4 separate regions of the Homo sapiens genome follow, and regions 2, 3 and 4 are each linked to region 1. Evidence: fine-mapped expression QTL. A gene starts in region 1. Each other region holds a variant in brackets. All regions are shown on one strand. Distances are from middle to middle. Region 1 holds the start of CHMP2B (charged multivesicular body protein 2B). Region 2 has its middle 26 kb from the start of MIR4795. Region 3 has its middle 220 kb from the start of VGLL3. Region 4 has its middle 30 kb from the start of MIR4795.

What was found. PIP is the estimated chance that this variant, and not a neighbour inherited with it, causes the effect.
Region 2: its variant is fine-mapped to the expression of CHMP2B in whole blood (TOPMed, PIP above 0.99).
Region 3: its variant is fine-mapped to the expression of CHMP2B in left ventricle (GTEx, PIP 0.98).
Region 4: its variant is fine-mapped to the expression of CHMP2B in transverse colon (GTEx, PIP 0.96).

Annotation. Positions count from the first base shown.
Region 1 is chr3:87,226,122-87,228,813 of GRCh38, reverse strand. It overlaps CHMP2B (charged multivesicular body protein 2B), which reads right to left and starts at 1,505. Exons shown (of 6, transcript NM_014043.4): 1 at 1,258-1,505. The coding sequence starts at 1,291. MIR4795 (microRNA 4795) reads left to right here and starts at 2,537; the gene lies at 2,537-2,625. RefSeq lists enhancers at 1,294-1,413, 1,484-1,553, 1,604-1,653, 1,744-1,803, 1,914-2,053.
Region 2 is chr3:87,199,134-87,201,825 of GRCh38, reverse strand. No RefSeq gene overlaps it. Among named protein-coding and RNA genes, the nearest start is that of MIR4795, 26 kb to the left of the region's middle. The variant G/A (reference allele first, on the strand shown) is at 1,612.
Region 3 is chr3:86,764,946-86,767,637 of GRCh38, reverse strand. No RefSeq gene overlaps it. Among named protein-coding and RNA genes, the nearest start is that of VGLL3, 220 kb to the left of the region's middle. The variant G/A (reference allele first, on the strand shown) is at 1,509.
Region 4 is chr3:87,195,203-87,197,894 of GRCh38, reverse strand. No RefSeq gene overlaps it. Among named protein-coding and RNA genes, the nearest start is that of MIR4795, 30 kb to the left of the region's middle. RefSeq lists an enhancer at 766-1,297. The variant G/A (reference allele first, on the strand shown) is at 1,540.

The DNA.
Region 1 (2,692 bases):
TTCACATCACTGTATCACCTAATATACGAAGTTGGTAGTTATTCCAGGTATTGCAAATGGTACTTAATAAAAAGTCAATAAATCAAAAAAATGTTCAGTCACCCAGAGTAAGGAAAAATGTATTATGTCATCTGATAAATTAGAGGTAAAGTAGATTATGTGTTGAAATGAAGTGTACAGCAGCAGAGCAGAGATGACTTCTTTGTTATCCTCCCCAAAATAATTTTGCTGGCATTGGAATAGTCAACACAAAGGAATGAAGGAGTTACGTCCAGGTCTGGACTGAGCACCCTATTTGTACCAATCACTGTCTAGCTACCACTGCTCCTTTTGTGGCAGAATTAGACCCTTACAAAGAAGTGATTCTTTGGTTGAACCAGCAACAACCTAGACTAAACATATAATGGGGAACACAATTTTTAAATAACTTGAATGAATTTAATTCCTGGTAGCAATCAATGAAAACATCAAGTGTTATATAAACACATTATAGGCATCGCATATGAGCACCATAAAACTTGTACATTCCTTTACATTCACTTTTTTCCCCGCTTAAGATGATATTAAGCTAAATGCGGGAAACAACACAATTATCTTTACATGTTAAACTTCTATGAAGACAATATATACCCCATCTCTTTCTTTAGTTGGCAAAAAATAATCATAAGGGAGAAAAATCCATTATGAAAACTAAATCTGGGCACTTCCCTTGGGTTTATTTTTCTACTGGGGTTAATCAAAAAAGCATTTGTTTCACATCTCTTTACTGATGGGGTGTTCTTAAAGAAGCAACTGACCCAGACCCAACTTCATTTCCTAACTGGAGCCTGTTATCCCCTCCCTCCCCATTCCGAGACTGCCAGTTTCCTGTATGGATGCCTACAAGTAGTATATCGCCCAACTGAAGAGCAACAATCGAAGCAGAGGAAACCAACAAGAAATCCATCAGATTTCCAAGTTTATTGACACTCAAGGGCCAGCTAGCCTCCTCGAAACGCTCAGGATCCTGCTGAGGAAAACCCGAGGGTGGGGGAATCGTGAGGATAGGGAAGCAACCAGACTGCCTAGGTGAGCCTAAGGTGAGGTGAGTCAGAAGCAAGAGGGAGGCAGAGAAGTGGTGCCGCGAGGGCGGTCACCTGTGGGACCACTTGATCCAGCCCCGCCTCCAGGGACAGTAGGCAGAATCGCGGCCAGCAGGCCTCGAAAGACGCCGAGAAAACGCAGAGCTGGGCCCCTTCAGCCCGGCCTGGAACTCACCATCCACGGTTTTCTTCTTGAAGAGGGACGCCATGGTTAAAGACTGCGCCCGGGCGGCCCGGCTCGGCCCGGTCCGGCCCAACGCTGGCAAAGGACAGGAGGAAAAGGACAGGACCTTGGCGGGTTCGGGGTGGCGGAGCGGAGAGACAGCAGGAGGAGGTCGGGGTCGCCAGGCAGGACCCGCGGAAGGCTTGTATCCGCAGCTACCGCAGCCGCGTCACCCGGAGCTCAGGTGACCGGGAACTAACACACTTTTTGGAGAAGTCACTTCTAGGCGGCGCCTGCGCGTTGTGTGGCGCCTGCGCACTACGGAGTTTGAAGCCGCGGCCGCTTTCCTCACGTCTGCGGCTGCCAGTTCCTCCTGCACCGGGAGTTGGCAGCGGGGCGAGTCTGGAGCTGGCGGGGATAGGAGAGCGTGGGGCCACGGCTTCTGTGCGCGGGTTGGGTGATGATTGAGGACAGTGATCAGCCTTGCTTAGCGCTTCACCCCTTGCCCCGGGGAAAGCTGGATGAGGGATCTCCGGGCTCCTAGACTAAGTGTGGGTTGTCCCGGAACCGCCTGTACCCACTCCGAGTTGATTTATTACGGTCCCATTGCTGTTAGTATTTTTGTTGTTGTTGTTGTTGTTGTTTGTTTGTTTTTACTCGAGTAATCCAGGAACTGGCGGAAACGTTGAGTTCCGTACCCGGTGATTGTTGGCCCCTGGAGTTCGCGGTCCTTTCGGCACTGACTGACTCGGCGACCTCCCCCGCACCGCGCAGACCCCTGCAGGACCCTAGCCGCTCACCTGCCGCCCCCGGCTCCAGACTCCGACGACCCAGCGTGGGTCTCCGGGGATCCAGTGTCTAGAGTTGGGGGGGTCTCGAGGACGAAGGGAAGTTTTTTAATGCTACACTTTTTGTTTAAGGTTCTTGCCTGGAAACATTAAAACACACACACACACACACACACACACACACACACACAAATTTGTAGGCTGGTCTAAATGTCTCCAGCTCTATTTCTTAATTTCTTGTAAATCATGAATCATAAAGTGTCATGGCTATACGGTGATCCTATTAGAATTCCTCACAGCCGTTTATTTGGGCTTTTTGTGAAAAACTGCATATCATGTTAAAGAAAAAATGTAATGAATTATTTAAAGAATCCTTGCATGTATAAAATGGAAAATACAACCTATGCGTGCGTACCTGTATATAGTCTCTACTGTTTAAAGCAACACTGCCTTCCACAGGATAAAAATAATGGTAGCATTTTTTTTTTCATAAATATTATCTCTGATATGGAAGAAATCCAGAAGTGGCTAATAATATTGACACTATAACAATAATGTCAATATTATTAGCCACTTCTGGATTTATGAATCATGTCTCAAGGATTATTATTTATGATAATCAGGCCAGCCTTTCCCATTTTTCCCCTCCTGAGATATCC
Region 2 (2,692 bases), 27 kb after region 1:
AGGAGAGAAAAAAATGAATCTTTAGTTTATATAAGATTAGCTGTGTATGGTGTCAGACATTGTACAGCATCTGGAGTTTTGGGGGGAGCATCTGTTTTCTTTTGTTGGGGAAGTCATTAAGAATTTTAAATGAGATTTTTCAATGGATAGGAGGAAGTGCTGTGTACATGTTTTCACTGGAAAGGGATTCAAGAAAGAGAGTGTCTGTAATCCCAGCACTTTGGTAGGCCAAGCTGGGTGGATCACCTGAGGTCAGGAGTTCAAGATCAGCCTGGCCAACATAGTGAAACCCCATCTCTACTAAAAATACAAAAATTAGCCAGGCATGGTGGCAGACACCTGTAATCCCAGCTACTTGGGAGGCTGAGGCAGGAGAATCGCTTGAACCTGGGAGGCGAAGGTTGCAGTGAGCCTAGACGGTGCCACTGCACTCCAGCCTGGGCAACAGAGCAAGACTCCATCTCAAAAAAAAAAAAAAGAAAAGAAAAAGAAAAGAAAAGAAAGAAAGAAAGAGAACGTGAATGATGAGGGAAAATTATCTTCTCATGAGTGAGAGTACTCAGGAAGCAAATAATGATGAAAACTGATGAAAATCAAAAAGATTGGCCACAAGTTCCAGAGCTGTTTGGAGGTCTAGAGAAGGTAAGGGCATGAATTCAGGGGAAATGGATTATCAACCGAAAAATTATGAAAGATGAACAAGTATCTTTTCTGTATTCTTTGACTCAGTCCTATAGATTGCTCCTGTAATTGCTATCTCTACAAGACAGGAATAACAGATTTCTCTACTGCATAACTAACAAAACTAAGTGTTGAATAGATTTAACAATTTCCCTTAGTTGACAAATGATGAGACTGAATTTCAAACCCAGGGAACATCATGGTTGAGGATGAACTGCAATCCAGAATTATATTTGTACCATTTGGACTATTTCAAAAATCACAGATGAAAGTTGTATTGCTTTAAAAGTAGAAAAATAACAACAACAAATACATATATGTGAAATTATTACAAGTCTTAAGTATGTAAATATTGAATACTATATAACATATCAGGATAATTAGAATGAAAATAAACTTCTGATTTAGTTGTCAGAGCACTTCTTTAAAAGCCAAGCAATCTCAGGATTAATTAGGTATAAACAGGATTAGGGAATTATTCAGCTATAAAGTTATGATACATTTTCCCTTTCTTTGCATTAAATAATGGTGCAAATTCCTTTAATTTTGCATATTTTCAAATTAATTTTCACAATCGAATAAAGGCTATTTCTATACGTATCTATCTGAGCACTAAGACTGCCTGGAATATTATTATTGAGGTTCTAGGAATAAAAGGCAGAATTTTGCTCTCTCATACCTATCATTCCTCTGATGGGTTGACCTCATAAAAATGAATATGCAAAAAGGAAACTGTACTTTGAAGTGATTTATTAATTGAGCTTGTGTGAGACATAGTTGTTTAAAGCTGTTTTAAAAAATTCAGATTTCATCTTGCTTTGTTCAATTTTCATGCTGGTAGAAATGTTTAAAGCTGAAAGGTTTTCATTTGTGTTTCTGCTGACTTGCACATTTCACACAATAGGCCTTGTTATCAAGGGTCTGATCGTG[G/A]TCAATGCAATTTGCAGTGTTAGCTAATTTTCTAAACTAGTAGTGAATTTAAAATTAATTACAGACCAGTTTTGGTTCATTAGTGTCCATGTTTTATGCCTGTTTGTTTGTTTTTAATTGAGTACAGGGGACAAAGACAAAAGTGCTGCTTTCTCTCATATGCAGAAATAAAGTGGTACAATCTTTAACTGAAACAATGAACATAGTAGCAGCAAAGACAATAGAGTCATATGATTTGGCAATGGGAGAACCCATGCATCTATCCTATTTGCTACTTGTACGTCTTAAAGCATGGAGTAAAGTGGGAGATAGTAAAATAATCAAGTGAAAAAAAAAGAGAATAAGTTTTGCAATTTCATGCATATTTACTAAAGGGGGTCAAAGTTCTAAGCATTCCATATAATCAAATAATTTATTAGGTTTGTGAGGTTAACTGCTTACAGCTAAGCAACTTGTAGCTTAATTGCTTCTCATACTACAGGAGAGTTAGAAATATCTTTCTGGCCCCTATCCCCAAAGCGGGAAACCCAGCCTGAGGCACTGAAAGTGCTATACAGGAAACAGTAGGTAGCATAATTCAGCCATGTCAAATTAATGTTGCTATCCTGGGAAAATAGATAGCATAATGAAGGAAGAATAAGGACATTTAGGAGAGAGTCCTTCAGTAGGACATCCCTATTGGTTTCTATTTATGTGCAGAAAATAAGGATTTGTCTCCCATTAAAAATAATATTCTGGAAATTAATTCTGAAAGACTAGATATACATTTTAGATTTACCCATTCCTACTTTGTCTTCATTATCTGGTTACTTTTCTCTATTGTAGCTAAGTTTCCAAAAGGAGACAGGGAAGGAACATTATACATAACTTGAGCAAGGAAAAGTTGAGTTGAATATATTTCTCTGTGTGGAGTTCAACTTATAAATCTCCTTGTAAGCCAAATCTGTGACTGCTCTTTGCTCCTGTGGTTTGAAGCCACCCTCACTCCTGTAAGATGATAGATTATCAGCAGAGAAAAACAGCAGGCTTGTGTTCACAATGATAGATAATGGGTGGAATTAAAGTGTGTTCCTGAACTTGG
Region 3 (2,692 bases), 460 kb after region 1:
ATTCAAGCCAGAAACTGTGTTTTTATATTTTTCTTTATCTTCGGTTGTAGCTCTTCAGATAGCAAGTTTACTCTTATACTCCTTGACAAGTTATATACAAAAATGAGTAAGTATATTAAAAACATTTAAAGGTGTTATCATTAAAATTATAATGAAATGATTTGACTAGATATAAATAAACTATAATCATGGGGATAATAGAAAGTTGTACATCAGAAACCAATATTTTTTTGACCATTGCTTTTACAGAACACTATTTCAAATAAGAGATAGCATAGTTTATGTAGAGCATGGGCCAGAAATGGAAATACCTAAACGAGCTGCTAAAAATGATAATTGTATGAATTGTGCTGTGCATAAGACAATAGGAAATGGTGATGGCAGTGACATATTGGTTAATGCATAATTTTCTTAAAGAATTTTAATTTAATTTTAAAATTTAGATATAATGAATACATACACACACACACACACACACACACACACACACCACTGTGAGTACTAGAAAACTTATCTGTAGGCTTAATTTTATCTATAAAACAGACCTTCATATAATTTCTCATTTAGAGTTGGTTTCAGGAAATATAATCCCTCCTCCTCTGTTTCCTTCTTTCTGAAGGTCTTTGTTGGCTTTTCAGTTCTATAACTCGAAGGACAATATATATACCTCTGTAACTCAATGAGTTAAAAGTCTGTTTATCTACTACCCATTGCAGATGAGTCTGTTTTTCTGAATAGACACTATTATTAAACACACAATTCTAAATTTGATCGATAAATTTAGAAGGCTAGTGAGTGAATATTCCTTGATTCCTGTTACATTTAAGGCAAAGATGATCTGATAGTATAAAGACCTTTTCATTAATGCTTTAAGAAAATATATGATTTTTCTTTATTGTAGTACACAATTAAGGGTATCCATCACCCAAATAAAGTAAAAGATCGTATATTGTCATTAGGGAATATGGTGAATTATTAATGTATTTTTCTCAGTTATCTATGTGTTAAGCAAAGCTTATAATATGTTACAAGGTTACATCCATTTTGGATGTGTGCATAATTTCTTAGTCACATAAAATAAGTGCGGAGAATGCAGAAAATATGCTGATGGCTGTGTTTTTAATGTTCATGTTACTGAATGTTAATAAAATTATTTGATCTGGAGGTCAAAAACATTTTTTTTTAATTTCCAAAACTTTCTAGAGCTGTCTGCACTTTTCATTTGGAAAAAGAAATTGTGTATGGAAAATATTTAGCTGTTTGGGAAAAACAATTGCTACATAATACATCAGTTACCACACAACTGTCATACAATACAATGAAGTGGTTACCAAAACAACATGTTTAATTTATTTGTTTGTTTTATGCACATAAATATTTTCCACATGAATAATGTCAAAATGTCTTCTGATTCAAATTGAAATTCACAAACACCGTTTCTTTCTTCTCCAAACAAATTTTAACATGTAAGATTTACTTAGAAGTTCTTGCTGAGACATGAAAGTTAA[G/A]GTGAAGCCTATTAAATCATTTGCTCAGGTAAGATACCTTATCACAATTCACAGCACTGCATCTACAATATTCTCTCCTAGGAATAATTTTTTTTCAAAGATTTTTGAACTTCAATATATTAGTGTAGCATAAAAAGGAGTTAAAGAGTTCTAGTGTTTGGGAAGGCAACTGAGAAAATTGTGAGTTCTCAACATAAAAACTTTAAGAAACCACCTACAGGTGTTTTGCAAAGTTTTTTGTCCTTTTTTTTCAGAAGTAACTGCTGCCAACATATATGTTGAGATTTTTTTTGAAATGGTTAGCTCTTAGTAGAGTTACAAAGAGTTGATCACAATCCCATCAACTGCCACCTATACTTGTATTTCAAAAGTGTCTGGTGATCATTTGTGAATCATATAATTTTCAAGACCAAGATCATACGTTTGGTATCATGAGAACCATACTGTAGCAAATCAAAGTGCAACAAATGTAAGTATCAATAACATATCTCAATGATTTTAAGATCAACTTGTTGATTTTGTTAATTTCTGGCCCGATTTTGAAGTTAAATGATTCCTCATCCCTTGAAAAAACAGAAATGTACTCAAAAACACTTTTTATTGTATCTTTGTCTGCTGTCAATTGTTTCTGTATATTGTGAAATGAAACTAACCCATCGGCCAAGGTGAATGAGAGAAGGGTGGTCACACCCACTTTGTTCCCAGAGAGGGCAGCTTCAGAGGAACATCTTGTTTGCACCTCTGAGTTAAGATGGTTCCTGTAACTGGAGCTCAAGCTCTGGTGGGAAAACTCCTTCCACCAGCGGCCTGAAAGGGGCAGCTAAAAAAGACTTCTGGTTTGAGCTTGGAAACTACCCAGCCAGAACTTAACTGTATTCAACCAATTAGGACTGAACAAGTTGGAATTCTTCATATGCATATGTGGACCTCATTGAGGGCTGAGGCAGAGACTTTCCCTATTCATTAAGCAAGGCCTGCTCTTTGTTATCTGGAGCTTACTTCACATTTGTTTCAAAGGTGTCTCCCCTATCTGAATATTGCTTTTTGTTTTTGTTTTAAAAACAAAACTCTCCTTTGTTTTTCCTCTGAAGACCTCATTGGCTTTTGTTAACAATATCAGGTATTTCTTTGATTGCAACATCATTGGGATCTAAAGAGTTTATGTAGAATATATTTCCACTCAT
Region 4 (2,692 bases), 31 kb after region 1:
TTACTTCCCATTCTCACTTTCCACAGTTCTTTGCCAGGGAGATAAGGAAAATTTACCCAGGGCAAGGATCACCTTGCTGTTCCACACCCCTTCCTAACATTCATCTCTGGGATGGCCCTGACTCCCTTCCAGGTTAACGACTGAAAGAGGAGAGATGTAAGAAACAGGAAGGAGCTTATTGACAGGCACAGGTATAAAATCCAGTGGATGGTGCTCTCTAGATGTGGTTGTTTGCTAATACCAACACGCCCTGCTAGATGCCTTCCTGGGTTCCTCAGGTACATGCACAGCTGGGAACTTCTGATTGAGTTGCCTTTGAGGTGCGCAATACTGTTCTCACGTAGTCCATTTCACTCCACATATGACCCCTCCTTCAGGCCCCTACCATGAGCATCCAAAGGCCCATCACTCTATTGGGGTCATATAAACCTACTAGGCAGTCTCCTGTAGTAGCACTTAAAAGGGCTTCAGGCTGCACATGATACTTATGTTACTCTCCAGCCAGAGAGCATCACATACCTTTCTTCTGCCTTTAATGAGATTTGTTTCCATTGTAGCCTCTTACCTCTGCCATTCAGTCTATTCCCTGTGGACTTTTTAAGGTACACATCTGGCATCAGCTTCTGTACCTAACAAACTTCGAGGGCCAAGTCCTATCACTTGACTTACATCAAGAGGGAAGAACCACCTCTTTTTCTTTCCCAGTGCATGGGGGTGTGTTTGTGTGTGGGTGTGTCTGTGTATATCCAGCAATGGAGGGAGGGTGGATGGTAAAGCACTCCAGAAAATTTATCTACACCCTCAGCTTGGAAGAGGGTGACAGGCTGAGAGTTGCAAATCCAGTCTTGCCACTCTCTTAGTAAGTCTGCATACATAGTGCATCACCTCATATTGGAATGTGGCCACATATAGCATGACAGGAGGCACCTCTTCACAAAGCAGCAGGAGAGAGAATGAGTGCCAGCAGGGGAAATGCCAGATGCTTATAAAACCATCAGATCTTGTGAGAACTCACTATCACTAGAACAGCATGGGGGAAACCACCCCCATGATTCAATTACCTCCACCTGGTCCCACCCTGGACACATGGGGATTATAACAACTCAAGGTGAGATGTGGGTGGGGACACAAAGCCAAACCATATAATTCCATCCCTCACCCCTCCCACATCTCATGTCCTCCCATTTCAGAAGACAATCATGCCCTTCCAACAGTCCCACAAAGTCTTAACTCATTCCAGCATTAACCCAAAAGTCCAAGTCCAAAGTCTCATCTGAGACAAGACATGTCCTTTCCACCTATGAGCCAGTGAAATCGAAACCAAGTTAGTTACTTCCTAGATACAATGGAGGTGCAGACATTGGGTAAATACAGCTGCTGCAAATGGGAGAAATTGGCCAAAACAAAGGGGCAGTCATTAAACCTTAAAGTTCCAATATGATCTCCTTTGACTCCATGTCTTACATCCAGGGCACGTTGATGCAAGAGTTGGACTCTCATAGCCTTGCATAGTTACACCCCTGTGGCTTTGCAGGGTAA[G/A]GCCCCTCCTCCTAGCTGCTTTCCCAGGTTGGCATTGAGTGTCTGTGCTTTTCCAGATGCACAGTGCAAGCTGTCAGTGAATCTACCATTCTGGAGTCTGGAGGACGGTGGCCCTCTTTCACAACTCCACCAGGCCCTGCCCCAGTGGGGACTCTGCATGTGGGCTCCAGCCCCACATTTCCCTTATGCACTGCCCTAGCAGAGGTTTTCCATGAGGGCTCTGTCCCTTCAGCAGACTTCTGTCTGTATATCCAGGTGTTTCCATACATCCTCTGATATCTAGGCAGAGGTTCCCAAACCTCAATTATTGACTTCTCTGTACCTGCAGGTCAAATACTACATGCAAGCCACCAAGGCTTTGGGCTTACACCCTCTGAAGCAATGGCCTGAGCTATACCCTGGCCCCTTTTAGCCAATGCTGGGAGGCAGGACACCAAGTCCTGAGGCTGCACAGAGCAGCAGGGAGGCCCTGGAGTCAGCCCATAAAATCATTTTTCTCTCTTTGGCCTCCAGGCCTGTGACGGGAAGTGCTGCTGTGGTTTCTGACATGCCCCGGAGACATTTTCCCCATTGTCTTGGTAATTAACCTTGGGCTCCTTGTTACATATGCTAATTTCTGCAGCAGGCTTGAATTTCTCCCAAGAAAATCTTTATTTCTTTTCTATCGCATCATCAGACTGCAAATTTTCCAAACTTTTATGCTCTGCTTCCTCTTGAACGCTTTGTTGTTTAGAAATTTCTTCTGCCAGTTACCCTAAATCATCTCTCTTAAGTTCAAAGTTCCAGAGATCTCTAGGGTGGGGCAAAATGCTGCCAGCCTCTTTGCTAAAGCATAACAAGAGTGACTTTTACTCCAGTTCCTAACAAGTTCCTCATCTCCGTTTGAGACCCCCTCAGTCTAGACTTCATTGTACATGTCACTATTAGCATTTTGGGCAAAGCCATTCAACGAGTCTCTACGAAGTTCCAAACTTTCCCACATTTTCCTTTCTTCTTCTGAGCCCTCAAAATTGTTTCAACCTCTGCCTGTTACCCAGTTCCAAAGTCATTTCCATGTTTTGAGGTATCCTTATAGCCGCACCCAACTTCTGGTACCAATTTACTGTACTAGCCCATTCTCATACTGCTCTGAAGAAATATCCAAGACTGGGTA